Regions from separate parts of the Homo sapiens genome. Here region 1 is linked to region 2. The links come from fine-mapping of genetic effects on gene expression. Tissue or cell type: whole blood. Region 2 holds a variant in brackets; the other region holds the start of a gene. All regions are shown on one strand. Distances are from middle to middle.

Region 1 (2,684 bases), 76 kb before region 2:
TAATGCATCCAACAAAAATATCTGGCTCATCATTCCCCCTCAAAACAAAACAAACAAAGCCCCTGCTCCCCACTCAATCTTCCATCTCTGTAAACAGCCCACCATTCACCCAGTTGTCAAGCCAAAGACATAGGGGCTATCCTTGCCTCCTTTTTCTCCCTCATCTTCTGTGTCCCAAGTCCAGTACTCTTTCTTTGTCCACTCCTCTGCATTCCCACTGTCCTCCCTCAGGTCCAGGCAGCCCTCTCTCCTTCCTCCCCTCTGCTCCTTCTCCACGAAAGAGTCAGGCGTGCTTTTCTTTTTTTTTTTTGAGACAGAGTCTCGCCCTGTAGCCCAGGCTGGAGTGCAATGGTGCGATCTTGGCTCACTGCAACCTCCACCTCCCAGATTCAAGCAATTCTCCTGCCTCAGCCTCCAGAGTAGCTGGGATTACAGGCACGTGCCACCACGCCCCGTGAATTTTTTTTTTTTTTTTTTTTTTTTTTTTGGATTTTTAGTAGAGATGGGGTTTCACCATGTTGTCCAGGCTGGTCTGGAACTCCTGACCTCGTGATCCGCCCACCTCAGCCTCCCAAAGTGCTGGGATTACAGGGGTGCTTTTAAGAACACAGATCGGCCAGGTGCGGTGGCTCACGCCTGTAATCCCAGCACTTTGGGGGACAGAGGCGAGCGGATCGCGAGGTCAGGAGTTCGAGACCAGCCTGGCCAACATGGTGAAACCCCGTCTCTACTAAAAATGTAAAAATTAGCCGGGCGTGGTGGTGGGCGCCTGTAATCCCAGCTACTCGGGAGGCTGAGGCAAGAGAATCGCTTGAAACCGGAAGGCGGAGGTTGCAGTGGGCCGAGATTGTGCCACTGCCCTCCAGCCTCGGTGGAAGAGCGAAACTCCGTCTCAAAAAAAAAAAAAAAGAAAAAGAACACAGATCTTCTTGCCCAACAACATCCCTCAAGGACTCCTTTCTTTTTCAGTATCTTGAATAAGACTTAAGAGACAGGTCCTGGAGAAACAGAGAAGGGAGGAGGCAGCCTGAAGGGGGCGGAGGCAAGCTCGTAGCACCGCCTCCACGTCTGGCTTGCGTTCTTCCGGGCTTCGGAACTTTTCTTCGCGGAGCCTGGGGAAGCTTTTCCAGTAGTACTTTCCGGCGTTGTTGACCCTATTTCCCGTGCTGCACCGCAGCCCCTTTCTCTTCCGGTTCTAGGCGCTTCGGGAGCCGCGGCTTATGGTGAGTGTTGGCCGCGCGGCATCCGATGCCATCCGCGACTTACGGGTGGCGGCGGGGCGCGGGCTGCGGAGAGGACTGGTGACCGACCGTGTGTCTGTCGGGAGCAAAAGCTGCGGGGTGGGAATGGTGCTTCTAGGTCCTAGGAGGGGGATGGCAGGGAAAGCCACTTTATTGGGGAATGCAGCTTTCCGGGGGTAAGGAGTTGATTTCAGGGCATCATTACCTGGGTTTGGGAGGCCAGGACTGGCGTTTGGTCGTGCAGAGTAAGCCGAGACTCGTGGAGGCTGCACATTCTCTGCCTGCAGGCTCATTCTGACCAGAATGGGGGGGGCAGAGGTGGCCCAGCCTGGCGAGCCCTTAACCCTGATCTCCACTTTTGTCTTCCAGGTGCAGACATGGCCAAGTCCAAGAACCACACCACACACAACCAGTGTAAGTTTTTTGGGCCCTGCCTACATCCCAGACCCTGGCAAGGACTGGTTCAGGCAAACTGGGACAGAGATGAAGGGGCACGTTTCCATTGTGGGCCTGAGGCTGATTGATTTCACCCAGTAATAACTTTAGGGTTTATAGGTTTAGAGATCTACTTGAGATACAGAGTGTTTTGCATTTAGTAGTAAGGGTTTCCCATATCTCAAGTGTAGCTGCTGTAGGAAGTGTTGGTTCTCCCAGACTTGCCAGCTGTGATGTTGGGTGGTCTTATTAGAGGAAAGTTCTTTGTTGGCTTAATTCCCTTTTTTTCTCCCACAGCCCGAAAATGGCACAGAAATGGTATCAAGAAACCCCGATCACAAAGATACGAATCTCTTAAGGGGGTGAGTGCACTGAATCACATGGAAGTGTCTTTTCTTGGTTCCAGGTGCACAGTCAAGGCCTCTCATGTAGTTTTTCTCTAGCTTTGGCTTCTGCCTGAGCACAGCCTAACTGGCCCACCCAAAGCCTGCAATTCCTTTTTCTACCCTACCAGACCCATAATAAAGCTTTCCTTGGTCTCCACAGCCTGAAGTGTAACCCTCTGGTCAGGGTGTAACCTGCCTCCTGAGGGCAGTTTGGCTATCTCCCTTGCTTGGCAGTGGCACTTAGGGTAAGGAGTGGCCTTGTCTGAGTGCGTGCAGGGCACATTCCCACACTGACCAGCCTTATGACCTCCATCTGACCCAGTGCTGGAGTTGGGGTCAGCTTCTCTTCCTGTGTCAGGGGGTTCTAAGGATTAGCTGAGAAGGCTGGAGGGTCTAGGGGAGAGCTGAGCATGTCCCCAGTCTGTTCCTTCCCTTTACTTTTGCTCTCTGTTCCGTGGAGTGAATCACAAACTCTGAGCCTCAGTTTCCCCATATCCCACCTTGGCTATAAGTCTTTTGGACCAGACTTGGTATTTAATTGACACCTTCTTCTAAAGAGGGGAGGGGGTGTCCCTGAGGGGATGTCAGGAAAAAACTTGGTCGAACCCCTGCTGTAGGAAGT
Region 2 (2,684 bases):
CCATGCCTGGCTAATTTTTGTGTTGTTTTGTATGGAGATAGGGTCTCACCACGTTGCCCAGCTAGTCTTGGACTCCTGGGCTCAAGTGATCCACCTGCCCCGGCCTCCCGAAGCATTAAGATTACAGGTTTGAGCCACTGCGTGCAGCCTGGGCTGTGTTTAGAATCCATCACTCCTAAACGTTTCCTCATGTTCCTCTGTTATCCCTTCCTCTCACCCCTCCTGAAGCCCCGCCTCCATCTTCAGGAAATCACTGATCTGCTCTCTGACATTTTAGACTAGTTTACATTTTTCTAGAATTTTATATAAATGAAATTATATAGTATATATATATTTTTTACTGATATATAAAAGTTGTACATGTTTATGGGGTACATATAATATTTTAATACATGCATAGAATGGGTAATGATCAAGTCAAGGTAATTGGGATATCCATCACTTCAGACATTTGGGAACAACCTGGATGGAACTGGAGGACATGTTAAGTGAAATAAGCCAGGCACAGAAAGGCAAATATTACATTTTCTCACTCATATGTGGGAGCTAAAAAAATTGATCTCATGGAGGGAGTGAGTAGAATGATGGTTACCAGAGGCTGGAAAGGGTCGGGGATGAGGAAGAATGAAGAATGGTTGGTTAATGGGTGCAAAAATGCAGTTAGCTAGGAGGAATAAGTTAAAGTGTTAGCATAATAGGGTGGCTATAGTTAAGAATTTATTGCATGTGGCTGGGTGCTGTGGCTCACACCTGTAATCCCAGCACTTTGGGAGGCCGAGGTGGGCAGATCACCTGAGGTCAGGAGTTCGAGACCAACATGGCCAACATGGGGAAACCCTTTCTCTGCTAAAAGTACAAAAATTAGCCAGGCGTGATGGCGCGAGCCTGTAGTCCCAGCTACTACTCGAGAGGCTGAGGCACAAGAATTGCTTGAACCCAGGAGACGGAGGTTGCAGTGAGCCAAGATTAAGCCACTCCACTCCAGCCTGGGTGACAGAGTGAGATTCTGTCTCAAAAAAAAAAAAAAAAGAATTTATTGTATGTTTCAAAATAGCTAGAAGATTTGAAATGTTCTCAACACGAAGAAATGATAAATGTTGGCCGGGCGCAGTGGCTCACGCCTGTAATCCCAGCACTTTGGGAGGCCGAGGCAGGCGGATCACAAGGTTGAGACCATCCTGGCTAACACGGTGAAACCCCATCTCTACTAAAAATACAAAAAATTAGCCGGGCGTAGTGGCGGGTGCCTGTAGTCCCAGCTGCTCGAGAGGCTGAGGCAGGAGAATGGCTTGAATCCTGGAGGCGGAGCTTGCAGTGAGCCGAGAGGGGGAGACTCCATCTCAAAAAAAAAAGAAATGATAAATGTTTTAGGATATACTCTTTTCATCTGTATCCTTTTTTTTTTTTTGGAGACGGAGTCTTGCTCTGTC[G/A]CCAGGCTAGAGTGCAGTGGCGCGATCTCAGCTAACTGCAACCTCTGCCTCACGGGTTCAAGCGATTCTCCTGCCTCAGCCTCCCCAGTAGCTGGTACTACAGGCGTACGCCACAATACCTGGCTAATTTGTTTTGTATTTTTAGTAGAGACGTGGTTTCACCATGTTGGCCAGGATGGTCTGGTCTTGATCTCCTGACCTCGTGATCCGCCCGCCTTGGCCTCCCAAAGTGCTGGGATTACAGGCGTGAGCCACCGCACCCGGCCTCATCTGTATACGTGCAAACAAAATTTATTTTGAGATTAATTCCTGTTACTGCATGTATCAATAGTTTATTCCTTTTTATTGTGGAATAGTGTCCCATTGAATAGGTGTGCTACATTTTGTTTATGCGTTCACATTTGTGTTGTTTTAAGGTTTTGGCTATTACAAATAAAGTTGCTATGAACATTAGTGTACAAGTCTTTATGTACACATGTGCTCCCATTTCTCTTGGGTAAATACTTAGGACTGGAATAGGAGAGTTACGTGGTAGGTATATGTAAAATGTTTTAAGAACTGTCAAACTTTTTTGCACAGTTGTACCATTTTTCATTCTCATAAGCAGTCTATACGAGTTTGTTCTCATCTAAAGAGTTCAAGTTGCTCTACATCCTTACTGGCACTTGGCATAAGTCTTTGAAATTATAGGCATTTTAATATGTGGGCCATAATAGTTTATCGTCCTAGTCTGCATTTCCCTAATTACTAAGGATTTTGAGTATCTGTACATAGGCTTGTTTACCATTGAGATATCTTCTTTGGCTCCCCCTTCCTGTGCGGTTGCTTGGAAACTCTCCAGGCAGTAAACTCTCATTTGTTTCCTTTCTCTTGGGGATTACTGTCCTTCATTGCCTGGTTTCTAGAATCTTAAAAATCATTGTTTTCTAGATTTTGTCTAGTTTTTGGTTGTTTCAGGTGGGAGAGTAAATCCAGTTACTGTTACTCCATCTTGGCTGGAAATGGAAGTCCCATCCTTTTACTTAAATTTTTTTATACACATAAAATTTACAATTTTAACTATTTTCATTGTACATTAAGTACTTGTTTTACTTTTAACATACCTATATAATTACATTTTAAATAGATTTATTATAGAGAGCACACAGTTTGTCTTTTTAAAAAAAGCCAATCTGTTAATACCTCCTTTTAATTGGCATATTTAGACTGGTTACATTCAATATTATTACTGATATAATTTAAGACTACAGTTTA

What was found. PIP is the estimated chance that this variant, and not a neighbour inherited with it, causes the effect.
Region 1: RPL29 starts here. The variant in region 2 is fine-mapped to the expression of RPL29 in whole blood (TOPMed, PIP above 0.99).

Annotation. Positions count from the first base shown.
Region 1 is chr3:51,994,396-51,997,079 of GRCh38, reverse strand. RPL29 (ribosomal protein L29) reads left to right here and starts at 1,185. Exons shown (of 4, transcript NM_000992.3): 1 at 1,185-1,223; 2 at 1,611-1,655; 3 at 1,974-2,038. The coding sequence starts at 1,619. RefSeq lists an enhancer at 1,081-1,240.
Region 2 is chr3:51,918,719-51,921,402 of GRCh38, reverse strand. No RefSeq gene overlaps it. Among named protein-coding and RNA genes, the nearest start is that of IQCF1, 17 kb to the right of the region's middle. The variant G/A (reference allele first, on the strand shown) is at 1,431.